7 linked regions of the Homo sapiens genome follow. The protein of the gene in region 5 purifies or fractionates together with the protein of the main gene of each other region. This does not show direct contact. Each region holds a gene or a part of one and is shown on either strand. Other genes may lie near its edges.

What was found.
Region 1: the proteins of GAK (region 5) and SEC16A purify together in Homo sapiens (affinity purification with mass spectrometry; one large-scale study listed by BioGRID and IntAct). This does not show direct contact.
Region 2: the proteins of GAK (region 5) and PARP10 purify together in Homo sapiens (affinity purification with mass spectrometry, with the first as the bait; one large-scale study listed by BioGRID). This does not show direct contact.
Region 3: the proteins of GAK (region 5) and AAK1 purify together in Homo sapiens (affinity purification with mass spectrometry; one large-scale study listed by BioGRID and IntAct). This does not show direct contact.
Region 4: the proteins of GAK (region 5) and STON2 purify together in Homo sapiens (affinity purification with mass spectrometry; one large-scale study listed by BioGRID and IntAct). This does not show direct contact.
Region 6: the proteins of GAK (region 5) and SPTAN1 purify together in Homo sapiens (affinity purification with mass spectrometry; one large-scale study listed by BioGRID and IntAct). This does not show direct contact.
Region 7: the proteins of GAK (region 5) and CLTA purify together in Homo sapiens (affinity purification with mass spectrometry; 2 studies listed by BioGRID and IntAct, with this or other methods). This does not show direct contact.

What each region holds. Positions count from the first base shown.
Region 1 is NC_000009.12:136,476,139-136,480,314, forward strand, and holds part of SEC16A (protein transport protein Sec16A), read right to left. Parts: intron 2,693-4,176; 5' UTR 2,571-2,692; intron 1,547-2,570; 5' UTR 1,478-1,546; coding exon 1-1,477. UniProt on the Homo sapiens protein: Acts as a molecular scaffold that plays a key role in the organization of the endoplasmic reticulum exit sites (ERES), also known as transitional endoplasmic reticulum (tER).
Region 2 is NC_000008.11:143,979,579-143,983,655, reverse strand, and holds part of PARP10 (protein mono-ADP-ribosyltransferase PARP10), read left to right. Parts: coding exon 1-489; intron 490-590; coding exon 591-724; intron 725-4,077. UniProt on the Homo sapiens protein: ADP-ribosyltransferase that mediates mono-ADP-ribosylation of glutamate and aspartate residues on target proteins. In contrast to PARP1 and PARP2, it is not able to mediate poly-ADP-ribosylation.
Region 3 is NC_000002.12:69,514,576-69,518,751, forward strand, and holds part of AAK1 (AP2-associated protein kinase 1), read right to left. Parts: intron 2,472-4,176; exon of another isoform or gene 2,176-2,471; intron 175-2,175; coding exon 1-174.
Region 4 is NC_000014.9:81,274,675-81,278,850, reverse strand, and holds part of STON2 (stonin-2), read left to right. Parts: intron 1-111; coding exon 112-1,950; intron 1,951-4,176. UniProt on the Homo sapiens protein: Adapter protein involved in endocytic machinery. Involved in the synaptic vesicle recycling. May facilitate clathrin-coated vesicle uncoating.
Region 5 is NC_000004.12:869,433-873,608, forward strand, and holds part of GAK (cyclin-G-associated kinase), read right to left. Parts: exon of another isoform or gene 3,869-4,176; intron 3,794-3,868; exon of another isoform or gene 3,636-3,793; intron 1,473-3,635; coding exon 1,279-1,472; intron 1-1,278. UniProt on the Homo sapiens protein: Associates with cyclin G and CDK5. Seems to act as an auxilin homolog that is involved in the uncoating of clathrin-coated vesicles by Hsc70 in non-neuronal cells. Expression oscillates slightly during the cell cycle, peaking at G1.
Region 6 is NC_000009.12:128,575,911-128,580,086, reverse strand, and holds part of SPTAN1 (spectrin alpha chain, non-erythrocytic 1), read right to left. Parts: intron 3,265-4,176; coding exon 3,131-3,264; intron 2,959-3,130; coding exon 2,814-2,958; intron 2,736-2,813; coding exon 2,581-2,735; intron 1,978-2,580; coding exon 1,842-1,977; intron 451-1,841; coding exon 349-450; intron 1-348. UniProt on the Homo sapiens protein: Fodrin, which seems to be involved in secretion, interacts with calmodulin in a calcium-dependent manner and is thus candidate for the calcium-dependent movement of the cytoskeleton at the membrane.
Region 7 is NC_000009.12:36,200,573-36,204,748, forward strand, and holds part of CLTA (clathrin light chain A), read left to right. Parts: intron 1-3,495; coding exon 3,496-3,607; intron 3,608-4,148; exon of another isoform or gene 4,149-4,176. UniProt on the Homo sapiens protein: Clathrin is the major protein of the polyhedral coat of coated pits and vesicles.

The sequences.
Region 1 (4,176 bases), on a different chromosome or scaffold from region 5:
GAAGGGGCCCATATCTGAACTGGTCACTCGGGGAGGAAGGGTCCAAATTGAGGGGCTCACTTGGCAGAACTTCTTGATTCTGAACAAATTCTAAGTTCTCAACATTCTCATACTGCGAGCCGCTGGCATCCGGCACCCCTGTGCTCGCTGTGTCACCCCACACATCACCAGCAGCCTCATTGCTGGGGCCTGGGAGAAGGGCCTGGCAGAGGCTGCCTGCCCCCACGTGTGTAGGTGCGGGCGGACGGCCTAGCCCAGGGCTGGAGCAGAAATCGTCAAAGTCCGCTTGACCAGATAAGCCTGCTTTTTCAGATGAGAGATTCTCCTCATTTTCTGTCTCTCCCCCTTGGAAAAACATCGCCAGAGCTCCTGAAGCTCCTGAGTCTGCTTCTAGCGGGGCACAGCCAGACCCGGCCCCAGCCCCCAGTGGGTGGTGCGTACGGTTTTCTGGGCTATCTCCCCGGGCGAGGGGGTTCACAAGAGCAGAGGCGGGCCGGTGCTCATTCTTCACTCCTGGATTCTGCCTGAGCTCTGGGCTTGCCCAGTGATTCACAATTCTGGGATTTTGCCTGAATGTACTTTCAGGATCAGAGTTATTGGCCAGGTGGCTTCCACTTTGCAAGTGGCTCACCTCGTCTCTTCCGTCACTGGGCAAGGCTGCTGGGGGAGCCACCAGAGGGCTGTGTTGCTCATGACCAGGGCCCTGATGTAGGATGGACGGGGTGGGGAAATGAGGAACGCTGGTGGCACAGGGCACCCCGCTGGGAACAGGTCCTTCAGGGCAGGGTGAACGATGTTGCCCCGAGGGCTGTGGGCCTCCCTGCACTGGCCCCCACTGTCCTGGCATCTGCAGACCAGGCTGAGGGAGGGAAGGGGATGCTGCTGGGGTGACCACACCGTCATGTGGGTTTTGCCTGCTCAGGGGTCGGTCGAGCCCAGGCATGTTCCCATGAGGGTGGCCCCCATGAGACGTTTCAGGATCCACTCCTGGAATGTAGTGAGGAAGATATGGCAGAGTCTGAACTTCAGGCTCTGAACTGGGACCGACCTCTGCACTCCTGTTCATCTCAGGCCCAGGAGGTGCTGAAGGTGTCAATGCACCAGAAAACGGACTGGCATGTGCTCTGGGCTGTGTCAGAGGTCCAGGCAGGGGCTCACAGGGTCCCTGAGAGCTATCTCTGGCATGTGTGTGAGGAACAAGCAAACCGGGGTGCTGAGAAAACCCTGCGGGGGCTGGGCCTTGCAAGACAGGTGGACTGCTTTTGGACGAACTGCCCAGTGGTGTACTTTGGAGCGCCTGTCTACTAAAAGCAAATGGATCCGTGACCGGCTGCAACGGGCAAGTTGTCGGAGCCACTGCTGCATTATTATTAGCCCGTCTCCTGTAAGGGCTGCTAGCCCAGAACACGCTCCGAGGATTCCCGGCTGGAGGTGGCCCAGCCATGCCAGACGGGACCGTCTGGGGCGGTGGCTGCATGACTGAACCCTTGCACAAGTCGATGCTGCTTACAGAAGGAAGCAGGATATAGCTGTTCCTTAATTGGAGCTGGAAAAGAAAAAGAGAAAATCAGCATAAAATCCATATATTCAAAGTCCTAGCTGCAATCAGGAAAACTAAGGAAAAAGAGAAACATTGAACATGATTTTATGTCACTTAAATCCCAAGGACTCTCTCTCCCCTACACCCCACCCCAGCAGAGAACACCTGTCCCTGAGGAACTGTTCTGGGGGGCAGGGGACAGAGTGAGAACCCTGGATGGCCTGGCTGCGAGCTGATGGAGTATGTCTAGATGGCCACTCCCTCCCCTGGGATCCTCTACTCACAGGGCCCATTGCTGCCGCAGACCCGCGCCACAACAACAGGGACAGTGCGGAACCTGACCACTGCTGTGATATGCTACCAGACCCACAGATACTCAATGTTTTCCTGTAAACCATCCCTAGATCCAGGAAGAGCCAACTCTTCTATTAAGAAAGAAAAACTGGCCAGATATGGTGGCTTACGCCTGTACTCCCAACACTTTAAGAGGCCAAGGCGGGAGGACCACTTGAGCCCAGGAATTCGAGGCCAGCCTGAGCAACAGGGGGATCTCGTTTCTACAAAAAATACAAAAATCAGCCAGGCATGGTGGTGCACACCTGTAGTCCCAACTACTCAGGAGGCTGAGGCAGGAGGATTGCGTCAGCCTGGGAGGTTGAGGCTGTCGTGAGCTATGACAGCACCACTACCCTTCAGCCTGGGTGACACAGTGAGTCCCTAGCTCAAAAAAAAAAAAAAAAAAGGAAAACTTTATATCATACTTTCCATACATGTTAATTTTAAATTTCAAAAGGGATACAAAAGTTTAAAATTCATTCTTCCATTTTCTTTGATGAAAGAGCATTATGAAGTATAGTTATAAAAGCTGCAAAATAGGCTGGGTGCAGTGGCTCATGCCTGTAATCCCAGCACTTTGGGAGGTCAAGGTGGAAGGACTGCCAGAGCCCAGGAGGTCGAGACCAGCCTGGGCAACATAGCAAGACCTTGTCTCTACAAAAGAAGAAAGTTAGCCAGACATGGTGGCACACACCTGTAGTCCCAGGGACTCAGGGGGTTAAGGAAGGAAGATCACTTGTGTCCATGAGTTCGAGGCTGCAGTGAGCTATGATTATACCACCGCGGTCCAGCCTGGGCAACAGAGCAAGACGGTCTCTATTTTAAAAAAATAAATAAATAAAAAGTGACACAATCATTTTTTTAAAAAGCACTGCAAAATAAATATATTCATCTAAATGCCTTTTATCACACCTCTTCATAGGTCTCCGTTTTTGTACTGTGACTGGCTTAAGGTCTGAAAGGACCACCAGCAAGATGTTACCTTTGAACTGGAGCCGTAACTGTGCCTGGAATGGAAACTCCCAGGAAACTTAAAGCAGCTTTACAAGGCACAGACTGGATTCCAACACTTTCAACAACAGGCAGAATTGCCAAGAAACCTCTTACAGAAAAGAAAGGGGCAAAAACCTCCATCAGTTTTTAAATAAAACATAGTAGATACAAACTTGAATAGTTAACCTGGCCTCTTAAGGCAAAAATTCAAGGACTATATCTTTAGGAAAGTTCTTTTCTTTCTATCAGTCTTTCTTCTTGTCAGCACCACCCTCATGAACAAACAGATAAGTTTAGCCAATCAAAGGAAAAATTAAACCAAAGGGGAGGACTCTGTAGTTTAATCCACACATTTTTTTTTTTGAGACGGAGTCTTGCTCTGTCGCCCAGACTGGGGTGCAGTGGTGCGATCTCGGCTCACTGCAAGCTCCGCCTCCCAGGTTCATGCCATTCTCCTGCCTCAGCCTCCTGAGCAGCTGGGACTACAGGCACCTGCCACCATGCCAGGCTAATTTTTTGTCTTTTCAGTAGAGATGGGGTTTCACCATGTTAGCCAGGATGGTCTTGATCTCCTGACCTCATAATCCACCCGCCTCGGCCTCCCAAAGTGCTGGGATTACAGGCGTGAGCCACCGTGCCTGGCCAATCCACACATCTTTGCAGATGTATATTATTTTGGTCTCTTGGAAATCTTTCTGATATTCAGATAAAAGAAGAAAACACTGGCCAGGTGCAGTGGCTCACACCTGTAAGCCGAGCACTTTGGGAGGTAGGAGGACCACTCGAGTTCAGCAGTTTGAGACCAGCCTGGGCAACACACAGCGATACCCCATCACCAAAAAAAAAATGCCGGTCGTGGTGGTGCGTGCCTGTAGTCCCAACTACTCGGGAGGCTGAGGTGGGAAGATCGCTTGAGCCAGGGAGGTTGAGGCTGCAGTGAGCCTTGTTCAAGCCACAACACTCCAGCCTGGGCGACAGAGTGAAACTGTCTCAAAAAAAAAAAGAAGAAAACACTGATCAATGTATTTTAAGTCAAGCTATTTACTAGGAACAGCAGCAAAGGCTTCATGGAGGTTTTAGGCTCTCATCTGAAAACAAAGAATGTTCACAGCTCTATTTTATATGGACTGAAAGGAGAACAGGCAGAGCATCTTCCTCTGATCTGTGCACTGGCATTATCTTCCACTGGGTCCTACCAGCTGCACAGCCACAGCAGACACAGCGACACCTGCAACCACGGCCAGAACACGCAAACTTCCAAGCACCTCCTGAAACTCTGCTGCCAGAACTGGGGTCCTACCTCATCT
Region 2 (4,077 bases), on a different chromosome or scaffold from region 5:
TGGCACCCAGGTGGCTGGAGGAGGAGGCCGCTCTGCAGCTGGCCCTCCACCGGTCACTGGAGCCTCAAGGTCAGGTGGCTGAGCAGGAGGAGGCTGCTGCCCTGCGGCAAGCCCTAACCCTCTCCCTGCTGGAGCAGCCCCCGTTGGAGGCAGAAGAGCCCCCAGATGGGGGGACTGATGGCAAGGCCCAGCTGGTGGTGCACTCGGCCTTTGAGCAGGATGTGGAGGAGCTGGACCGGGCGCTCAGGGCTGCCTTGGAGGTCCACGTCCAGGAGGAGACGGTGGGGCCCTGGCGCCGCACACTGCCTGCAGAGCTGCGTGCTCGCCTGGAGCGGTGCCATGGTGTGAGTGTTGCCCTGCGTGGTGACTGCACCATCCTCCGTGGCTTCGGGGCCCACCCTGCCCGTGCTGCCCGCCACTTGGTGGCACTTCTGGCTGGCCCCTGGGATCAGAGTTTGGCCTTTCCCTTGGCAGCTTCAGGCCCTACCTGTGAGTCTACCTCCTGGACTGAGGGACGGTGGGGTGGGCTGGTTAGCAGGGGCTAGTGCCCCAGGCATGGCTCTGACCCCCCGCTTTTCCCCATGCATCAGTGGCGGGGCAGACGCTGAAGGGGCCCTGGAACAACCTGGAGCGTCTGGCAGAGAACACCGGGGAGTTCCAGGAGGTGGTGCGGGCCTTCTACGACACCCTGGACGCTGCCCGCAGCAGCATCCGCGTCGTTCGTGTGAGTCCATGCCCTGTCTCTCTGGCCTCATGGCGTCCTGGGCTCTTGCACCATTAGCGCCTTGCCAAGTCTGTGGCCTGTCCCTCTCGCCTACATCAAGGTCAGCTGACCAGGAGCTGACAGGCTCCCAGCCCTGTTCTCTGCCCAGAGGGCGTTCCCAAAGTGGGTAGGGAAACAGGAGGGAACAGAGTGGGGGCCTTGGGATCTGATAGGCCTGAGTGAGGGTCCCCACTCTGCCACTCGTGGCTGGGTCAGCAGGGACTATGGGACCAGCTCCAGGCCTCAGTTTCCTTATTTGGAGCATGGGGCGGTGATGCCATCTTGTGGTCATTTTGAGGATTACTCGCTCCACAGATGCGTCCCTTGTGCTGTTCTGGGCGCTCTTCTGCCTCCACAGAAAGGCCCGGGCTCGCTGCGGTCACTGTGCTGATGACACTGCGCGGGGCACTCTCTTTTTTGAGACGGCATCTCGCTGTGTCTCCTGGGCTGGAGTGCAGTGGCACGATCTCGGCTCACGGCAAGCTCCGCCTCCCGGGTTCACGCCATTCTCCTGCCTCAGCCTCCCAAGTAGCTGGGACTACAGGCGCCTGCCACCACGCCCGGCTAATTTTTTAAAAAATATTTTTAGTGGAGACGGGGTTTCACCATGTTAGCCAGGATGGTCTCGATCTACTGACCTCGTGATCCGCCCGCCTCGGCCTCCCAAAGTGCTGGGATTACAGGCGTGAGCCACCGCGCCCGGCCTTGCACGGGGCACTCTCAACTCTTGATGCCCAAAGTTGTGCGTGGGGCCAGCAGCATCACCCTCCACCAGGAGCTGGTCAGAAATGCAAAAAGAACCTCTGGCTGTCCCCAGACCTCACCACCATCATCACCACCATCACACCATCACCATGACCCTCACCACCATCATCACCACCATCATCACCATCACCCCATCACCATCACCACCACCATCACACCATCACCATGACCCTCACCACTCACTGTCATCACCACCACCATCACCATCACCATCATCACCACCACCTTCACCACTCACTGTCGTCACCACCATCATCACCACCACCTTCACCACTCACTGTCGTCACCACCATCATCACCACCACCTTCACCACTCACTGTCGTCACCACCATCATCACCACCACCTTCACCACTCACTGTCGTCACCACCATCATCACCATCACCTTCACCACTCACTGTCGTCACCACCATCATCACCACCACCTTCACCACTCACTGTCGTCACCACCATCATCACCACCACCTTCACCACTCACTGTCGTCACCACCATCATCACCATCACCTTCACCACTCACTGTCGTCACCACCATCATCACCACCACCTTCACCACTCACTGTCGTCACCACCATCATCACCATCACCTTCACCACTCACTGTCGTCACCACCATCACCACCACCTTCACCACTCACTGTCGTCACCACCATCATCACCACCACCTTCACCACTCACTGTCGTCACCACCATCATCACCACCACCTTCACCACTCACTGTCGTCACCACCATCATCACCATCACCTTCACCACTCACTGTCGTCACCACCATCATCACCATCACCTTCACCACTCACTGTCGTCACCACCATCACCACCACCACTACCACCACCACCGTGGCCACCATCATCACCACCATTAGCATCACCACTGTCACCGTCAGCTTCACCAACACACCGTCACCGCTCACCGCCACCAGGATCACCACCACCCAGACGCACTGACCTCATATCCTGGTGGTTTTGTTAATTATACGTACTTGGTTCTTCCGGTGAGCACCTTGATGACTTTAAATGGTATGCTTGAATTTAGTGAGCACCTTGATGACTTTAAATGGTATGCTTGAATTTTTTTTTTTCACTTGACAGCTTTAGAGATTGTTTCTTGCCTTCCCGCATGGAAGATGAGGAGAATGGGCCTCGCTTCTCTCTCTTTTGCCTCCTCCCTCATCTTCCATCTCAATTTGGTCAGTTACATTATTTTTATTATGTCGTAAAGGTTTCTGTAACTATCACAAAGCCTCCATGCGTGGGCCATAGGTTGGTAGACATACTATAATAATGAAAAAACATTTACCACTGAGCCATAGAAAGAGAAGTGAAATCCTAGTTATTAAAATTCTGTTCTGTAAAAAAGATGTTCTAGGATTCAAGGCTAATGGCTTTTCTTTTTTTGACTTTCTTCATTTTTTCCAGGCCATTCTTGACCACCGGGTTACTCAGTACCCCGCTTGTCACCTTTTGGCACAGACTCTTTTGTTTAGTGGGAGTATCTCCTTGAGTGGGTGCTAAACATATTTGACTTTTAAATTTACGTATATGTGAACATATATGTTTAAACATATACATTTATATATTAATATATACATTTATATATATAATTTTTTTGAGACAGTGTCTCTCTCTGTTGCCCAGGCTAGAGTGCAGTGGCATGATCTCGGCTCACTGCAACCTCCACCTCTTGGGTTCAAGTGATTCTGCCTCAGCCTCCCAAGTAGCTGGGATTACAGGCACACACCACCACACCCAGCTACTTTTTGTATTTTTAGTAGAGATGGTTTTTTTTTTTTTTTTTTTTTTTTTTTTTTTTGAGACGGAATCTCACTCAGTAGCCCAGGCTGGAGTGCAGTGGTGCAATCTCAGCTCACTGCAAGCTCTGCCTCCCGGGTTCACGCCATTCTCCTGCCTCAGCCTCCTGAGTAGCTGGGACTACAGGCGCCTGCCACCACGCCCAGCTTATTTTTGTATTTTTATTAGAGACGGGGTTTCACCATGTTAGCCAGGATGGTCTCAATCTCCTGACCTCATGATCTGCCCACCTCGGCCTCCCAAAGTGCTGGGATTACAGGCGTGAGCCACCGCGCCCGGCTGAGACGGGTTTTTTTTTTTTTTTTTTTTGAGACGGAGTCTCGCTCTGTCACTCAGGCTGGAGTGCAGTGGCACGATGTCGGCTCACTGCAAGCTCCGCCTCCTGCGTTCACGCCATTCTCCTGCCTCAGCCTCCTGAGTAGCTGTGACTACAGGCGCCCGCCACCGCGCCCGGCTAAATTTTGTATTTTTAATAGAGACGGGGTTTCACCATGGTCTCGATCTCCCGACCTCGTGATCCGCCCACCTCGGCCTCCCAAAGTGCTGGGATTACAGGCGTGAGCCACCATGCCCAGCGAGACGGGGTTTTGCCATGTTGGTCAGGCTGGTCTCGAACTCCTGACCTCAAGTGATCCACCCACCTTGGCCTCCCAAAGTGCCAGGATTACAGGCGTGAGCCACTGCACCCGGCCGACTTTTAAATTTATATTGCCCTTTACAATTAGAGGTATTTTGCAACTGT
Region 3 (4,176 bases), on a different chromosome or scaffold from region 5:
CATCAGCTGTTGTTGATGCAGGGCTGTGGCCAGCTGTTGCTGTTGCTGTTGTTGTTGCTGCTGCTGCTGCTGCTGGTAGAAATTCTGCATTAGCTGCTGTTGAGAGCCTCCTTGGGACACCACAGGGAACTGAGCAATTGCTGGTTTCTGGGTTGCTGGATGTACTGCCTGAAACTGAGCAAGAAATGAGGAGATGAATAAGGGCCTGTCCCAGAATAATAGTCACAAAAGACAAATGTCTCAAAAACAATGAAGACCAGTGCTAAAGCCAAAGGCAAGGGCAAGTAGAAAAGTCTTGAGGCTAGGCCTAAAATCTCATGATAGAGACCTCAGGGAATTAAAATACAACACAGCAGCAGTCCCTTACACTGCTAGGCTCCATCCATTGCACCAGGCTGCCTCCTGCACTACAGACTGGCCTTCCAAGTGGGTTTCTGGGCCTTGCCTAAGGGAAGCTATCTGACTAAACATCATGTGACTCCATAAGCTAGAGTATAGCAGGAGCTAATAAACGATCTCCTAATCATAGAGGTAATCCTTCTTATAAAGGGATTTGAAGTAGCCAAGATTAAAATGCTTCCCTACCTGAACAGGATGAAGCAATGATGACACTGAAAAGAATAACCTAAATGTTAACTCAACTATTAAGACTCATCTCAAGTCTTACTAAAAATTATTTCCCAAGAGCTCCATTTTTATTAAACTTCCTTAAACATTCAAAATAGCCAGTGTGCTCTATGACGCTTCCTTTTGTTTGTTTGTTTGAGATAGTGTCTTGCTGTGTTGCCCAGGCTGGGATGTAGTGGTGCAAGCAATCTCGGCTCACTGCACCCTTGACCTCCTGGGCTCAAGTGATCATTCCACCTCAGCCTCCTAAGTACCTGGTATCACAGGTGCACACTACCATGCCTGGCTAATTTTTTTTCTTATTTTTTGTAGAGACACAGTCTCACAATGTTGCCCAGGCTGTCTCGACCTCCTGGGCTCAAGCAATCCTCCCGCTTCGGCCTCTGAAGATGCTGAGATTACAAGCATGAGCCACTGTATCTGGCCCACACTTCTTATATGTCTCTCTAATCCCCACTGTTAGGGGCTATGTGCTACATACACAAACAGAGCTCAAAATAAGGGCCTGCTGATGAACTAAGGTCAACACTGTATCTTTGAACATCCCGTATACTTTACGTAGTTATTAGAGTCAATTGGGAGGATACTGTTTGTCTACTGGGGCAAAGTTAAAGGGTTAACAAATTAGAAGATGTCAAAAAAAAAAAATAGCTGCCTACTTATAACAGCAAAATACTGGAAACAACCCAAATGTCTATCAACAGGAGACTGGCTGATTAAATATTTATGATAGATATATCCTGAAGGAAATATCTAATAGAATACTCTCAAGTTGTAAATAAGAATGAGCAATACCACTATATATGGGTTGGTGGGGATGGACTTTTGCAGATTTAACTCTGAAACTATGTAAATGTTTCACATATCCACAAAACAGAATTAAACTAAAATTTAAAAAGCAATAACTAAAAATCAAAAGCAAAACAATGCATATAAACCGGTGTATCAAATTGGTAGCTGAACGCGCCAGAAAATAATGTGCTAAACATTCTAAGGGTAAAATGGGCAAGGAAATCTTAAACTGTTTTCAGTAATCATATGGTTATTGCTATCTTAAAACGATAGAACAATTAATTATCTATGTTAATGCTGTTAAGAATCAAGATTTCCAGAAAAAAAAAAAAACAACAAAATCCAAGAAGTTAAACAGAAATCCAGTAATTACAAATCCAAATTAGGAATATAAATCCGAATTCATAATGCCTATTCTCCAACAAAACAAAACAAAATATATTTTCTAATTGTCCACTGAGAAGGCCTAGAAACAACAAGCAATCCATTAGGCAAATGGTATTTCTAGCATCAAAACTGTGGTTTCTAAACATTATTTGCACTAAAAAGAAACAGAGCTCCTAAGAAAAATGGATGATTTCAAGTTGAGGGCAGCATGATCCTAGAGGGCAGCATGATCCTAGATAGCAAGGAAATCATTAAAGACCACTGGAGTTACATTCAAAGGATTTAGGAGCCAATTTGAAGAGACTTCCACTGGCCAAAGTTGGGGCAATCTGAGCTTTAAAATAAATACATTTTTTAAAACTGCAATATGCCAGGCATGGTGGTGTGCACCTGTAGTCCCAGCTACTCGGAAGGCTGAGGCGGGAGGATCGCTTGAGCCCAGGAAGTCAAGGGTTGTAGTATGCTATGCTAGTTGGGTGTCTGCACTAAGGTCAGCATCAGTATGAGGACCTCCCGGGAGCAGGGGACCAGTAGCCTAAGGAGGGTTGAACCAGCGCAGATTAGAAACGGAGCAGGTCAAAACTCCAGGGCTGATTAGTAGTGGGATCCTGCTTGTGAATAGCCACTGCACTCCAGCCTGGGCAACACAGCAAGGCCCCACCTCTAGTAAAAACAAAACAAAAAAAGCAATGTATTCAAAGATATCAAATATGTTAAAATCTAAGAATTCCTAATGATACTAACTAAACTAAACAAAACAAAAACGTCACTGTTCACCTTTGGATGACAAGAGGGAACAAATTTATTACTCTGAAAACCAGTAAACAAAAGGAAAGAATCAAGTGTTTTTCCTGCCTTTTCTGTACAAACAGTACCTCAGGGTAGCTAAAGAGCTGATGAAAAAATTTCTTCATGGAAAACGTCCAGCCCTCAAATGAAGAGGGAATGTTAGAATATCACTGTGCCATCCCTGATGAATTAAGGAACTTGGCAAATGATCAGTGATACCTGCTAAGCTAATGGGGAACATTAAACAAATGGATCAGACAGACAACACCTCAATACACCGATTGATCTTTTTTTCTTCCTTTTTTTAAAAATATTTTTGGGAAACGCAGTCTTCAGGGAAATCTGAAAGTACACGCTCCCTGATCTTAATATCAGTGAAATAGAGGCCAGAGAGACATTACAGACCTCCTGACATGATGCAACAGGAAGAACAAAGAATTGTCAAACTGAATCAAATACTGAGTAAGCCTCGAGAAATTACCAGTGTACACGGAAGACGGTCAGACACATCAAATGACACCATAGCATGCAATCAGCTAAACCCAGAATGCCAAAAATTCCAAGGGACAAATAATCCAGTTTCTCCGAAAAATTAAATGACAAAAAGCAAAAAAAAAAAAAAAAAGAGGAGAGGGAACCTATGGATAAAAGGGGACTTAAAAGATATATCAGCCAGCAGCCGCATAGGCTAATGTGTGTAATTCCGATGATTTGGGAGGCTGAGGTGGGAGGATGGCTTGAGGCCGGGAGTTTGAGACCAGCCTGGGCAAAATAACGAGACCCCCATTTCTACCAATAAAAATTAGCCAGGCATGGTGGCACATGCTTATAGTCCTAGCTACTTGAGAGACTCAGCTGGGATGATCACTTGAGCCCAGGAACTGGAGGCTGCAGTGAGCTATAACTGCACCACTTCACTCCAGCCTGGGAAACAGAGCAAGACCATACCTCCAAAAAAACAGATATACTCATCATTATAAAATGAATACATTCATAGTAAAAAATGTGAAAAAAATATATGAAAAGATAATGGAAAACAATATAGACCAACTAAATACAATCTGTTAGTATTGGATACTGATTCAAACAAGCCAACTTAATTATGAGATATCAGAAACAGTTAAACACTAATGGATATTTGATAATAAGAAACTATTGTTATTTTTTCCTCTCTTATGATAATGGTGTTACAGTTGTATTAGAAAAAAGAAGAAAAAAAAGCAGTCCTTAAAAAAAAATAGTTTTTTTTTTTTTTTTTTTTTTTTTGAGACAGAGTCTTGCTCTTGTTGCCCAGGCTGGAGTGCAATGGCACGATCTCGGCTCACTGAACCTCTGCCTCCTGGGTTCAAGCGATTCTTCTGCCTCAGCTTCCCAAGTAGCTGGGACGACAGGCTTGCGCCACCATGCCCAGCTAATTTTTGTATTTTTAGTAGAGACAGGGTTTCACCATGTTGGCCAGGATGGTCTCGATCTCTTGACCTCGTGATCCACCTGTCTCGGCCTCCCAAAGTGCTGGGATTACAGGCGCGAGCCACTGCACCCGGCCAAAAAAATAGCTCTTGTACTGATGTTCCTCAATCA
Region 4 (4,176 bases), on a different chromosome or scaffold from region 5:
AATGTACTGGATTCCAGTTAAAATTCTAGTAATCCCTCATTCCTATACTTCAGTTTTCCTTACCTCTAGAGCCCCTGAACAGTAGCTCATATGTTCTCCTTTTCCTTTTAGACAATTCCTCCTCGCTTCAAGAAGATGAAGAAGTAGAGATGGAGGCCATCAGCTGGCAGGCCAGCAGTCCAGCCATGAATGGGCACCCTGCCCCTCCAGTGACCTCTGCTCGTTTTCCCAGCTGGGTCACCTTTGATGACAATGAAGTCAGCTGCCCTTTACCACCAGTCACCTCTCCTCTGAAGCCAAATACACCACCAAGTGCATCTGTGATCCCAGATGTACCTTATAATTCAATGGGATCATTTAAGAAGAGGGACCGTCCCAAGAGCACTTTGATGAACTTCTCCAAAGTTCAGAAGCTGGATATTTCCTCTTTAAACCGCACGCCTTCTGTAACTGAGGCTTCACCTTGGAGGGCAACCAACCCTTTCCTGAATGAGACTCTGCAGGATGTACAGCCCTCCCCTATCAACCCTTTCAGTGCTTTCTTTGAGGAGCAGGAGAGGCGCTCCCAAAACAGTTCCATTTCCAGTACCACGGGCAAAAGCCAAAGAGATTCCCTCATTGTCATCTACCAGGATGCCATCAGTTTTGATGATTCAAGCAAAACCCAGTCACACTCTGATGCTGTTGAAAAACTCAAACAACTCCAAATTGATGACCCTGATCACTTTGGCAGTGCAACTCTACCTGATGATGACCCAGTAGCCTGGATTGAACTAGATGCTCACCCGCCTGGATCAGCACGGTCCCAGCCTCGTGACGGGTGGCCAATGATGTTGAGGATCCCTGAGAAGAAAAACATCATGTCCTCCAGGCACTGGGGACCGATCTTCGTCAAACTGACAGACACTGGTTACCTGCAGCTGTATTATGAGCAGGGCCTAGAAAAACCATTCCGTGAGTTCAAGCTGGAGATCTGTCATGAGATTTCAGAACCCCGGCTTCAAAACTATGATGAGAATGGCAGAATCCACAGCTTGCGGATAGACCGTGTCACCTATAAAGAGAAGAAGAAATACCAGCCCAAACCTGCTGTGGCCCACACAGCAGAGAGGGAACAGGTGATTAAGCTGGGCACCACCAATTACGATGACTTCCTGAGTTTCATCCATGCAGTTCAGGACCGTCTCATGGATCTGCCAGTGTTGTCAATGGACTTGAGCACAGTTGGCCTCAACTACCTTGAAGAGGAGATTACAGTGGATGTCAGAGATGAATTCTCTGGCATTGTGAGCAAAGGAGACAACCAGATTCTCCAGCACCATGTCTTGACACGGATCCACATCCTGAGTTTCCTGTCTGGGCTCGCAGAGTGCCGCCTGGGCCTCAATGACATCCTCGTCAAAGGGAATGAAATAGTTTTGAGGCAGGACATCATGCCCACCACCACCACAAAGTGGATCAAGCTCCATGAGTGCCGTTTCCATGGGTGTGTGGATGAGGATGTTTTCCACAACTCACGGGTCATTCTGTTCAACCCTTTGGATGCGTGCCGGTTTGAGCTAATGCGGTTCAGGACAGTGTTTGCTGAGAAGACCTTGCCTTTCACACTCAGGACGGCCACAAGTGTCAATGGGGCAGAGGTGGAGGTGCAGAGCTGGCTGAGGATGTCAACTGGCTTCTCCGCCAATCGTGACCCCCTCACTCAGGTTCCCTGTGAGAATGTGATGATCCGTTACCCTGTGCCCAGTGAGTGGGTGAAAAACTTCCGCAGGGAAAGTGTCCTGGGGGAAAAGTCTTTGAAAGCCAAAGTGAACCGGGGGGCAAGTTTTGGCTCCACTAGTGTTTCTGGCTCTGAGCCTGTCATGAGAGTAACTCTGGGAACTGCCAAGTACGAGCATGCCTTCAACTCCATTGTGTGGAGGATAAACCGACTGCCGGACAAAAACTCAGGTGGGTGGTGGTTCCTCTTCTGTGAAAACAAACATACAGTTGTGAAAAAGCTGAGATCAAAGTTCCACATCCTGTATGAAGTGCTTGTTTTTGCTGTGTGATGGGAGTGGTGATGGAGGGGGAGTGGGACCAGAAAAGTAAAAATAATTGAGCAAGGTAAGTAATGCGTATAGTGACCCAGTTCACTCTGTCTTTTCACCCTCTCATTATCACACATCTTCCATAAAACTAGGGATTATTCTTCTCAGCTGAGCTGCTAAGCAGCTTTTCAGGGCAGCTTCTGAATTTATATTCTTTGGGGACTCATTAACGTATTAGCTGTGGTGCTGGAAGTGATTCATTTCTAGATGGCTTCTGAAGAGACATCTTTCTCACACTGCCCTCGATGTAGGTAAAAGGGCCAGTTTATGGCCAATCATGGACAATACACTGAGAGGTTAATTTTACGACTCCAGCTACCCTGTGCAGGGTCTGTTAGTCATAATATCTCACATTCAGACTTTGGCTCTGGGACTGGGGGATGGGAAAGAAAAGTGGCCTTCAATCAGACTGAAGATCCAGCTAGGACATGAATTTCTAAAAGGGCCAGAAGTCTAGCAGACAAAATATAAAGAAAAGAATGTTTTATTTAGACAAACAAAAAAATGCTTACCAGCCCTAGCTGGGCTGCTCGCAGCTATCAGGGATGCTTTTGTGCTTGAGTGAGTCCAGAAGGCAATTACTTCCCCCGTGGGTCCCGTGAGATTTAGTGAAATGACAAAATGAGGGAGCAGTCAAACCAGCACTAATACACATATTTCTTAGAGTATGTCTGGGTGACCCCAATGGTAGGCAGCAAGCCCATGATCTTGTAAGCCATTAAACCCCTTCTTTTCTTGTTTAGAATACATTTTGCCCATCTGTTAACGAAAGTGGATACGCTAGCTGAGCAAAAAGGATAAGGTTTGGAAAAACTCTTGAGTGAAATGGCTTTCTCTTATGTGGCTATCCTTTCTTAGATTCTCACTATAAATCGTAGCAGTGTGTTAAGAGTCTTCCTCTCCCGCTCTGAGTGTGGAGTGTCTGTATTATTATATCCTAAGTGTAATGCAATGTGACGGCCGACGGCAGTATAATCGGGCCAGCTCCCCAGGCAGTCCAGGGAGTGGACACACACCAGGGCATTCTGTATCAGACACTGGGTGTAGCTATGCAAACTGAAGAGACAATTGGATCTCTGTGTTTGAGGCTGGATTTGCTACTCCCTACTTCTAAACTGACAGAATTTTTAAAACCAAGTGTTCCTCTCTGTGCCTGCTTATTCATTTCCCCTGAAATCAGCACTGTCTTCTGCTGGTGGTAGCACTGTAACTTCTACCTTATCCACGGGGCCCCTCTGAATTGACAGAGGAAGAGAGAAAACCCTGAACTCTCCTTTGACACGGAAGCCCTTGGAAAGAGACAACCATGGAATTACCGGATTTTCAAGCTGGAAGGGACCTTGAATAACTTAGTCAAGTTATTTATAGATGAGAAAATTAAGGTCGGGAAGGTGATGTGACGTATCTAGAGAGTCATGCAGTCACATCCAGGGTCCTTTTCTTAATATATCACTGGTGCCTCCTGGTAGATGAAGCCAAATAGACACAAATATTGAAATAATTTCCACCAGAAGAACAGATATTTGCAGTTTTTCCAGTATGTACAAACGTATCTATTTGTTTCAAAGTGATTTCTCCCAAACATTTAAAAGTACTGCATGAAGGTTTATTATTATTATTATTATAAGCAACAAAGACTTATCGGCTACCCTAAGCAACAAAACAAATTATTGGATAGGATAGCTCAGAGACCTGAGGAAAAGACTGATCAAGAGAAGACTTTAGACAGACAGCACTAGAGTAGCTCTGGTCATAGAGACTAATGGATGTCTCCTCAGCATGTAGCCTTAGGACAAATCATCACAGACTATTTTTTGTTTTTGTTTTTTTGTGTTTGTTTGTTTGTTTGTTTTTTTGAAATGAAGTCTCGCTGTGTTGCCCAGGCTGAAGTGCAGTGGTGCGATCTTGGCTCACTGCAACTTCCACCTCCTGGATTCAAGCGATTCTCCTGCATCAGTCTTCTGAGTAGCTAAATTTTTGTATTTTTAGTAGAGACAGGTTTTCACCATGTTGGCCAGACTGGTCTCAAACTCCTGACCTCAGGTGATCCGCCTGCCTCGTACTCCCGAAGTGCTGGGATTACAGG
Region 5 (4,176 bases):
TGCACAGTACACAGGAATGCACACACAGCACACACAGATGCATGGTACACAGGAATGCACACACACAGATGCACAGTACACACGAATGCACACACAGCACATACACACATGCAGGGTACACATGAATGCACACACACAGATGCACAGTACACACGAATGCACACACAGCACATACACACATGCAGGGTACACATGAATGCACACACACAGATGCACAGTACACACGAATGCACACACAGCACATACACACATGCAGGGTACACATGAATGCACACACAGCACACACAGATGCACAGTACACATGAATGCACACAGTACACACAGATGCACAGTACACACGAATGCACACACAGCAGAGATGCATGGTACACACAAATGCACACACACAGGCACAGTACACATGAATGCACACAGCACACATAGATGCAGGGTACACATGAATGCACGCACACAGATGCACGGTACACACACATGCACACACTCGGATGCACAGTACACATGCATGCACACACACAAATGGACGGTACACACGAACGCACACACAGCACATACCGATGCATGGTACACACGAACGCACACACAGCACACACAGATGCACTGTACACACGAATGCACACAGCACACAGATACACAGTACACATGAATGCACACACCACTCGTGCACACACACACACGGCACACACCACCCACGGACACATACACAGCACGCACAGGTCACACATACAGCCTCTTTCAGGGACGCTGAAGATGCTCAGAAAGAAAAAGCAAACACTGCAAACCAAGAGCCGAGAACAAGCGTGGCATGAGCAGTGGACGGCCCTGGGCCCACCTGCCAGCACTTCCTGGGCTGCCGTTTCGAAACTGCTCGGAAGTGAAGAGCGACAGGAGCGAGGGTTCTGTTCCACATGCTGCCAGCAGGCCTGAGGCTCACAGTGAGAGTGGACGTGTGTCCAGCACACATGACAAAAATCTGACCCAGACACACGCCTGGGACAAAACCCCGCTTCGCTCCAGGAGCCTGGGTTTTCCTCCCTCTGCCTCCGTCCCTGCCCATGGGCCTCAGAAATTGCAGCCTGCGAGTCCTTCTCTGGTGTAGCTGGTGGTGGTGTCCAACATCCACGACGGAGTTTCCAAAACCTCCTGCAGCCCAAGCTGCTCAGGGCCTGGGTGCAGCAGCAGGCGTGGGGCCCAGCCCTGCCAGAGCTCAGCCAAAGGTGTCTCTCTCCACAGAGACACTCACCAGAACAGGGTTCACCTAATTCACCTGCGGGATCTTACCAAACTTAGACAGAATGTCTTGCTGCTCCTCCCGGCTGGAAAACAGGATTTTGGGGTTCAGCCCCCTCATGCTCGAGTTCTCCCATGGTGGGGCTTCCCGGCTCGGCCTGTCCCTGGGCTCCACCTCCACTTCCAGGTTCACTTGAAATAAATCCGGGTATTTTTCTTGAATGTCACACGCGTCCAGGTCATACCTGCGGTTACAAGTAGACACCACTTAGGAAGGCCACCCAAGTAGTCTGTAAGTCCTTGGACATTCACTAAAGAAACGTGCATGGAAACAGGTGGCAGCTGCAGGCAGCGGGGCGAGAACAACCAGGGCAGCCGGCCACCCCCGCCTGCGGAAGCTGGAGCCCTGTGAGCTGACCCAGCAGCTGTCCCAGGAACCCACAGGGCACCAGCACCCCCGGTCACGGCCCCAGAAGAGCATCATTTCACTCGCTCCTCGGACGTCACAGTGGGGATGCCCGCGACTGTGTTCAAGGCAGAGGGGCACCGGGCGGGGCCGCCATGTTTCCTGCAACTCCAGGGGAGGCCACGTGCTCAGAGCAGACGGGACAACATCCCACAGCTGGAGACTCCGGCACCCAGGCAGGCAGCTCTGAGGTGGGACCCCAGGGTTCCAAGGCAGGCGCTGGCCCTCACTACCCAGCACACACAGACTGCAGCCACCCGGCAGCTCAGAGCACGCACTCTGGGATACTAAATGTGTTTTCCATAAAAATGACGACGTCCGCCCTGACAAAAATCCACAACTGTCAACAGATGCCCATAAAACCAAGACCTCTAGAATCCGGCTGCCAGGGAATTGGGAACATGATTCCGGGGGAAACAAAGCTGTGTTCACTGTGGGGCTGGGGAGGCAGCCCAGGCTGAGCTGTGGGGAGCAGGGCAGAGGTCAGCAGGGCCTGCCTTGGGGTGTCGGCCGTGCGGGTGGGGAGCAGGGCAGGGGTCAGCAGGGCCCACCTTGGGGTGTCGGCCATGTGGGTGGGGAGCAGGGGCAGGGGTCAGCAGGGCCCGCCTTGGGGTGTTGGCCGCACGGGGAGGCAGGTGTGACCTGACACTGACCATTTCCCAGCCCCACAGCTCTCTAAGGAATTCCAGGCTATTTCACACATTTCCTATGATCATCTCTGATCCCACTGTCATAAACTGCACTGATAAGCCTGGGCTCTCCAGCGGGCAGCAGGCTCCCCATGCCTGTCTTATTTTACGCCACCTAAAATCTCTACATGTTGAATGTTATACACCTAAGAAAATAAAGAAGAAACACAAAAGAGTGGCGGCCAGTTCCTGGGAAACCCAGGCTGCCAGTGTCTGCAGGGCCAGGAACACCCAGAGCAGAGTGGGATCCGCCGAGGGAGGGCAGGGAGACGGGCCCGGCGGCCTGTGTGGGTCAGAGCCACGGCTGGTTTTAACTGTCACTTCTCTGAGCTCCACACATGCCTGTGATGTGTGAAAGGCCTCTAGTTCACCCCTTCCTGCTCACCCTCTAAAACATCCTCTCCCTGCACGAGGGGAGAGCACCCTGTGCCCGCCCTGAGGGGTGGCCAACCTCACGCAGAGCAGCGCCCCCTCAATGCCCACTCAAGGCTCTGGGCGGAGGTGGCCACGGCCGAAGCCGGGACTGATGTGCACTCCAGCCGGGGCCAACACGAGCTTCCCCCTGCGCCCGAGCCTCTTTGCGTGCCGCTGTCTGTCGTCAGGGGTGGCAGGGACTGCACAGCGGTGGCACAGCTGGCGTGGAGATGTGGAGGAGGCAACGTCTGCAGAGGAGCCTGCAGGCACCAGCAGAGAATCCGACGGCCACCGCAGCGGAGGCTCAGACCGGCCACGACCGAGGGCGGAGAGGCACAGTGGGAGGGGCACGGAGGGAGGGAGTGTGCAGGGAGCCAGGTCGGCCAGACGGGCTTGGGTCCTGGGACAGACCGAACTTGGGCAGCCCCAGAGGGAGTGCCGCTCATGCCCAGCCTCCCTCCCCCAGCTGCCCCTTGAGATGGCCCTGGGCACTGGGCCTGCAGGCTCGGCTCACCCAGCCTGGCGCTGAGGGCACAATGAGGTCTGTGAGCAGGGCTGGCCACTCCCGAGAGCCCTGGACTGCAGAGGACACTGCCCGCAGGCTCCTGCCAGACTAGCTCCAACAGGGCAGAGCGGACTCCTGACAGGCTCAGCTGTTACATCTGTGCCATGGCTGCAACCCTGTGCTCCTCTCGCCCAGGCACGGCGCAGGCTCACCACGCAGGGAACACGCCTCTCGCCCAGGCACGGCGCAGGCTCACCACGCAGGGAACACGCCTCTCGCCCAGGCACGGCGCAGGCTCACCACGCAGGGAACACGCCTCTCGCCCACAGCGCAGCCTTGATCTCGCAGGTTCAAGCAATCCTCCTGCCTCCCAAAGTGTTGGAATTACAGCTGTAAGCCACTGTGCGCAACCAACCTTTCTTCCTTTTAATGTATGCATTTGAAGTTACACATTTCCTCTAAACCCTGCTTCAGATGCACCCCACACATCTGGTAAGTGGTATTTTGATTATCAATGTGTTTAAAATATTTTCTCATTTCAACAGTGATTTCCTTTTTGGCACACAGGTCACTTAACGAGCATACGGTCTCTGGGTGTTTTCCTGTCACTGATTCCCACTTTAATCCACTGTTGAGATGCCTTGAGACTTGCTGTATGACCCAACGTGGAGTCCACTTTAATAAACGCCCACTTGAACAGATGCCATTTCTCCAAGTATTCGCTGAAGTTTGCAAAACTCAGGTCAAGTTGGTTAAACCTTGTAAAAAAAAAAAAACTATATCCTGTTCTTGTCTACCTGTTCCACTGCCTGGGGAGAGAGGCGGCCATCAGCGTGGGCCTGTCAACTTCACCCCTCCTTCTGCCCTTTGTGCTG
Region 6 (4,176 bases), on a different chromosome or scaffold from region 5:
CCTGCCTTGGCCTCTGAAAGTGCTGGGGTCACACCACACCTGGCCTATGTATCATTTTATAAAAATTTGTTTCCTCTTTGCTCCAACTCCTAATGCAAGACTCAGCTCCCTACAGAAAGTCCCTGTAAGTAGGAAACATGCCACACATGCCCCAGATAAGGAGGACTGTCTCTCAGGAAATCAGCACACTATACATATACCTTCTTTTTAAACCTCTGCAGAGAAAGGAAAGTTTCTCACATATCATGGTGAATGCGTTCTCTGGATATTTAAGGATGAATAATAGCTTTCAGAGACTTAGTGAAAGGTGTAATTTGCTCCTCAAAAGCTCCATTTCTCTTCTCTTACCTTCTCCCTCACTTCATCTGAGGCATAGTGACCAGCAGCAAGCAGTGCCTGTCCAGATTCATCTGCAGATTTGAAGCTGTCTTCATGGGCATCAATTTCACCCTACAGGAGAAAAAAACAAAGCCATGATTTGTGCCCAGCATCTTACAAAATAAAAACAAGGTGCTGAATTTTACATAAGCATTATAAGCCAGACTATGACATCTAAAATGAGAAACAAAATGAAAGATTAGGCCAGATTTCCTAATACATAATCAGTCTAGGTCATCAAATGTGAGAGTATCACTCACTGATGAAATCCTTTCCAAATGGCTTTTCAGGTCACCTGTCATTTGTCAAGGTTCCACACATTCACATGGGTCTGAGCTCTCTTTCATTCCAGGGCTCTGTCTTCTTTGTGCCAAATGGACTTGTTTACTATGATTTTATAGAACCTGGTAGGGCGAGTCCCTCCCTGGCCCCATTATGATCTTCAACATTGTCTCAGCTTTTTTTGAATTTTTTTCTTCCAAATCAGTTTTGGAATCAGCTTATCTCATTGCAAAAAGAAACACACACATATACCTGCTGAGCACTTGACTGGAACTGCATTAACGGTATATATCCTGGTGGGAATTTACACCTTCACAGAAGATCGTTCCATCTGTGTACTAGATAAATCATTCTATCTATTCAGTTTTTATTTAATGCCTTTTAACAAAGTTTTATAGTTTTCTCCAGAAGTGTCTTACACTCTTTTGTTAGACTTATTCCTAAGTACTTTATATTTTCTGCTCTAATAAGTAGTATTTTTAAAAATTATGTTTCTGTTGCTAGTGTAGAGAAACATGTTTGACTTTCAGTATATTGATTTTGTATCTAGCACATTAAAACCTCTCAGAAGGTTTTTTTTTTTTTTTTTTTCTTTGAGACAGAGTGAAACACTCTTGTTGTCCGGACGGGAGTGGAATGGTGTGATCTTGGCTCACTGCAACCTCTGCCTCCCGGGTTCAAGCGATTCTCCTGCCTCAGACTCCTGAATAGCTGGGACTACAGGCGCGTGCCACCATGACCAGCTAACTGTTGCATTTTTAGTAGAGATGGGGTTTCACCATGTTGGCATGGATGGTCTTGATCTCTTGACCTCATGATCCACCCGCCTCAGCCTTCCAAAGTGCTGGGATTACAGACATAAGCCACCGTGCCTGGCCCAACAAATACTTTTTACATCACAAAGGATCAATGTGCCAAGTAGTAGCACTTCTATCTCGCCAGAGCTTGTCTGTTTGCTTTTATGGACCACAGTGAACCTCTTGACACTGAACCCAGTTAAGCCTCTATCAGAAGCAGGTAGACCAGGTCTCCAAAGGCAAAACCAACCATAATCCTCATGATGAGAAACACCTGTGAATAACATGGTACCAACGCCGACTATAGGCCTCACCCAACACTGATAAACTGGTGCATTATAAGCTAAAATCTTCACTTCTGGAAGATTCTAGAGATACCATTACCTTGTGCTCTTGGTGTCTATCTAGCAGGGCTTCAGCCCCAGCCACATCACTGGCAAGCTCATCTGCATTGATGAGGGCTTTCATCTCAGTCACCCAGCTGGTGAGGTCACGGAAGTCAGCAAGGAAGCGTTGAAGCCTAGGGAAAACCAAAGGAAGACATTATGTTTCCAGCGGAGGTTCCAGGGTGGAAAATGGCCTCCCTAAAGCTCTGAATTCTATGTTCTCAAATGTCTAACAAACTATATAAATTCTAATTCTGGGAAATATGAAAATTTCCCAATCTAGACTGTGAAGGAAAGCAAGAGAAGGCTGAAATCAACCCTTTAAAACTTAGGTTCTCTCCATCACTATAATGCCCCAATCCTGTCCCACATTTTCAACTTCCTTGTTATTCCCAGGTTCAACCCTTGGCTAGCAAGGATTCTTTTCCTTTCTAATCCTGGTTTTAATAAGATATTTCATGTGATACTCAGATACTTAAAGGGACATTCCCATTCTATCAATCATAATGCAGTGATGCAGAATAGAAGAATTTATGAAGTTGTAAATACCATACGTATACTACACATGATACAGTTGCCAGTCTCCAAACAGAGAGAACATAGGTAAGAAGTGATTTGCATTTGTAGGTGATACCTGACACTTTCACAGAACACAGAACAGACCCTTAACTCTGCTATTCCTGCTTCCAAAAAAGAAGCCAAATGATACTGGTTAAGACCTGGAGCATTATTTGCACCTGTATGAATCATTGAGCCGTGCATGTCTCTCTGCCGCCAAGGTGCGGATCTGCTCCCAGTTTGTAATCAGTTCCTCTCGCTTCACTTGAATCTGTGTTGCACTCAGAGGGTGGGACTGTTGCAGGCGGTCAGCCTCAGCACACAGGGCTTTGACCTAGAAATGAACTCCGTCAGAACTATTCTCCTGACCCTTGGTAACTTATTTACAGAATCAGCTGCTTGTAAAACCCACCTTGTCTTCTAGAGCAGCAAGATCTCTCTCCAGACCCTCGTGCTTCCGAAGCAGAGCCTGAACACTTGCCAGGTCTCGGCCAAAATCATCAGAGGCCATTAACTGCTCCTTTTCCTTAATCCAACTGATAGTCTCATCCACATCCCTACAGAACAAAGGCACCAGTTAATCCACAGCAATGATGACTCCCTAGAACTAGGAACACCCCATGGGACCAAGGCCTAGTCAGCCTCGACAGCTCACCAGCACATGCCCTGTGCTTCACAACTCCCCTCCAGGTTGAGACCCATTCCCCAAAGCCCACTCTGGCTTGACACCTGTTAAAGCGCTGAACTTCTGCTGCCCCAAAGAGCTTCCCCTGCCTCTGCAGAGCCAGGCCCTTCAGCCGCTGCCAGGCTGCATTGACTTCATCCTGCTTAGTCTTGATCAGTTCCTCCTCAGGGTGCTGCTCCTAAACAAGGAAGAGAAGAGACTGGATTTGTACACAACTTCTGGCTCCTCCAACTAGTTACCCTGGGGTTGGTTCCTTGAAGCATCTCAGCAAATCACCACTCTGAAGAGAATCACAAGAAATAATGGTCAACATGATACAAAGTGAACTACAACTCCAAAGAGTTTCTATTTCTTATGTAAAAAGGGGAGAGCCATTCTCTATCTTTTGGAGTAGTGTGGTTAGTCTATAAGGTGGTTATGTGCAAAAGTGCCAAAAACCTTTATGTTAATAAATAGTTTGGCAACAACTGTGTGGTAACTTTATCAATGTACTCATCTACCCTAACTGCTTGAAAATTTGGTATTTCAGATGTTCATGAGGCTGTTAAGCATTCTTGCACATAAACATAATTTTCGGGGCTCAAGAGTTTGTCCCTGGCTTTAGACTGACGACATTTCTTTTTTTCTTTTTTGAGACAGGGTCTTGCTATGTTACCCAGGCTGGTCTCAAGTGATCCTGTCTTGTCAGCCTGAGTCTGAGTAGAGTAGCTGGGTCTATAGGCAGGTGCCACTGCATCAAGCTTAGAGACATTTCTTTAAAAGTATCCTTCCCTACCAACCACATTTTGGTGTTTTAAAAAATATGATACAAAGTAATAAAATGAAGCATTTCAGGGTTCTTGAATCCATCTGGGATACCATGGGTTTGGCCTGACTACTTTTCTCAAGCTCAACCGCAGGAAAGCTTAGGGTTTGGAAAAGCAACACATCTGTCACTGTGGAAGGGTGAGATATTTCTGAGGAATGCCGGGTATCTTTCTCTTAATCACTGGCCAGAAAATGGAAACAAGTACCAGCCTATAAGCAGATTTATACACTTAAAATTTGTACCCCCCAAATCAAATTTCCCTAAAAGTAAAAACTCTCTGGT
Region 7 (4,176 bases), on a different chromosome or scaffold from region 5:
CAATTAGTGCCAAATCATTTATCTCTCTAGTCCAATTTAGGTGGCTTTCAGAACAAAGAATGCACTTAGTATTTGAACCTTTATAGCACCATTCATTAGTGATTTCTTTGGTGGAAATATTCTGTATCTGTGCTGTCTCGTATGGTAGCCACTAACCACATGTAACTGTTAAGTACTTGAAGTGTGGCTTCACAATTCAAGTGTGACTGAGAAACTGAATTTTAAATTTTCTTTAATTTTAATAAATTTACATTGAAGTAGCCACATGTAGCTAGTAGCTACCATATTGGACAGTGGAGCTGTAGGAAGATGAAAATAGGTCCTAACAGCTTTGGTCCTTGCTTGTTCTTTGTGTCTCTTGAGTATGCTTAGAGGCAAGATTTAGCTGGTCTTAGTACTGCTGTAGTATTTTTCATGTTACAGAACCCAAATTTATCTTTTCTGTTTTACCAAGCTCTAGCAGTTTTTCTTCTCCATGGAGAGAGTCTACTTTGGTGTCTGGAAAGATTTAATTTTTCAATTATGAAATTGGGTACTTGGGGAATACTCTTATGAGCTGTTTTCTTAATTCAAAGTGCTTTTTTTGAGAGAAGTACAACATTTGGCCTTGCATTCCAACTGAATTGAATTCACTTGGTTCATGAACAAGGTGTTCCTTCAATTTCACCTTTTTTCCTTGCAAAAACTGTGAGAAAGCACGCGATGCTAAAAATAGAGAACCGGTGCCAGTGGTTTTCAGCCTAGCTGCTGGCTACATTCTCAAGTAATTTTCTTTTCTCTGACCAGTAACGAGGGTGGCCAGAAGGGAAGGCACCTGTGAATGTGCTTTGCTCTCTAAGGGGACTCTTCCTCTTCATCCTCTGAGGGGAAGAATTCTAAATTAGTATTGCAGTGGCACTAAAGCTGCAAAAGCCAGAAGACCAATTTAAATGTACTATTTTATGCAGTAACCACAGTCTGTTCAGGAGGTCACCATTTTTATTTAATTTCATTTTTCAGAGATAAATTTTATATTTTAGTCCTAATGTATAGTAAATGTTAACATCAAAATACATTGAAAGAAAATACTGTCCAATCAAAAAGGTAATTATTTGGAAGTAATTTCACCATGATTGAAAAGGGGGCCTTACATTTTGAATTAGGTATTGTCACATGGCACTTCCAGCCCACAGCTTCTCATTGCAGCATAGCTAAATCTTGCATTCCACATCTGTACTTCATGCCATGGATAGACACATATTAGATGTTTACTGTAGAGGCTAGGTGGTGTGGCTCAGGTCTGTAATCCCAGCACTTTAGGAGGCTGAGGTGGGAGGATCACTTGAGCTCAGGAGTTCAAGACCAGCCTGGGCACCATAGTGAGACCCTATCTCTACTAAAAAAAAAAAATTAGCTGGGGGTTGTGGTGCACGCTTGTGGTCCCAGCTGCTTAGGAGATTGAGGTGGGAGGATCACTTGAGCCTGGGAGATTGAGGCTGCAGTGAGCTGTGATAGAACTACTGCAGTACAGCCTGGGCTACAGAGCGAGACCCTATCTCAAATAAAACAAAAAAAAGTTTACTGTATATACTTTAGAGTCATCAGTGAAAAATCTGAGAAAATGATTCTTCTGAACGACAGATCACCTTCCGACAAATTAGATACCGAGATGAACGTTCCTACTAACCTGAAACTTGGGGGAGTTTCTAGCTGCTATTAGGCTTTTTCTTATAGTTACACACAGCCTTTTGCAGGTTGTTACTATAAGACCTTTCTTGCAAAGGCCCTAAAAATGCCCAAGAATACTTCATTTTTCATCCCTTCTAGTAGTTACTTGACACCGCTACTGCTATCTACTCTCCTTCTCAAAGACACTAATTACAGTTTGGGCTCTTGGTCTGCACTTTCAAAACTCTGTCCAGATCACTGGTGGTCACGTTTTGTGATTATTTCTAGGCTTGCCTCCCTTTCTGTCCCTCCCTTTGGAGGAAGCATAATGAGGTAAGCAAAGTGTAAGCTTTACAGCCAGATCTGGGTTTGAATCTTGGCTCTGTCACTTACTATAACCTTTAGGAAATTCACTCAAACTTTCTGAGCTTTAGTTTTTCTCACTGCTGAAAATGTGATCAGAGTTTACCTTCTTGGGATTGTTGTAAAGATTGAGTTAGATGTCTATAAAACACCTGCCAGACAGAAGAACTTGTTTAAAGTGAAGTATCAGGTTAACTTCAAGTGTCAGCTGCCTCAGTAGCTATGACATGTATTTCTTTTTTTTTTTTTTCTTTTTTGAGACAGAGTCTCACTTTGTTGCCTAGGCTGGAGTGCAGTGGTGCGATCTCAGCTCACTGCAACCTCTGCCTCCCAGATTCAAGCGATTCTCCTGCCTCAGCCTCCCCAGTAATCCCCAGTAGCTGGGATTATAGGCATGCACCACCACATCCAGCTAATTTTTTGTATTTTTAGTAGAGACGGGATTTTACCATGTTGGCCAGGCTGGTCTCGAACTCCTAACCTCAGATGATCCACCTGCCTCGGCCTCCCAAAGTGTTGGGATTACAGGCGTGAGCCACCACAAGCAGCCGGCATGTATTTCTTTATCTCTCACTATCTACTGATGTATGTCTCTTCAGCTTAGTGTCTTAGAGAAAACCATATTTAGTCCTCAGAAACTTCATGTTTCATGTTTGAGAATCCAATCTAGCAAACCTGCTAGGTATGCATTTTCTTGCTGTCATTTCTAGAACCTTTAGGTTAACTGTTAGCAATGATCCCATACCTCTACCCCCTGCACTTCTCTCCAGTGGAGTTTCTTTTGTAGCTCTGCCCTGGCTCTGCCACAAACACACTGCAGACCAAGTAGGAGTAGATGCTTTGTGGTCCTCTCTAGTGCTAATATTCTGTGTTCTATCATTCTCTGGTTCCTGAATCATCTCTACCTTTGGTAATTGTCCTAATAGCACCCTGCCTCACAGAAGTGCTTCTACCATATTTAGTTATGAGAGTGCCACCTTGTGTTCCACAAAACCATTGTCAAACCTGGAATATGGACTAGTTTGGGAGAAGAGGTAAAAGATTAAGATGAATACCCTACTATGAACTAATATTGGCAGCATTGGTAAAGAATCATCTATAATTGTTTCTCCCCCAATTGGTGCCCAGAAGGCTTTTTTCCTATTAATAATAGAAGTCAGTATTTCCACATACACCCTTCTCTTTTGCTCTGCCCAAAACAAGACAAAACAAAACTAATGACCCACTAAGATGTCAGTGGACTGGGATAAGACCAGGAATAGGACTGTGGGAAAGACCAGGCAGGAATAGAAGCACTGAAATCAGAGTTGGTTGTGCAAACAGAGAAAACAGAAGTTTATCTTCCCCTCTCTACTCTTCTCCCCCAACAGGCACACAGACATGGACCTGCACCCACCACAAGTTCAGCAAGACCAAAATAAACTGATGAACTTCAGTTTGCACTTTGCCTCAATTGTATTGTCTTTCTCTTCTCTCCCTTCAAAGATGCCAATTCTCGGAAGCAAGAAGCAGAGTGGAAAGAAAAGGCAATAAAGGAGCTAGAAGAATGGTATGCAAGACAGGACGAGCAGCTACAGAAAACAAAAGCAAACAACAGGTCAGTCCGTGGTGGTTGTAGCACACTTTGTTTTCCAAAATTGAATCAAATCCATTCTCAGCATCCAGTCTCGGTTTTTGGCTTCTGCCTCCTTTAGTGTGAAATGTCTGCAGTTTTTAAAGAAAGTGCTTGAAACAGGTTGCAAGTCTCTCGGGTCTTGTGAGCATAATTCACCCTATTGTTTAGCCATCCCAATTGTAGTGAGCTTAGCTCTCTGAGAGTTTGGTTAATATGCATAACCTGTAATGGTGTGATTCAGCCAAGGGAAAAGTTACTTTCCATGGAACCCTGAAACGAAAGCTGGGTGTCATGAATACACCCAGATCTAGTTACTTTGGATATGATTATAGACTTGGTCATGTTGAGTCTCCTCAATATAGCCCTGCCCCCTGAAAGCCACTTCATGAAGGGGTCCGTTGGCAGGAATATGTGCTTTGTAATTAGGCAGCCAAGGATGTTCCAACATGATTATTTTAGAATTGAGGGTTCTGTGGGTACTTATTTGTGCCTTAAAAAGTCTTGAATTGACTTCTTAAAAATGTTCTGTTTGAAATAGATTTTATTTAGTT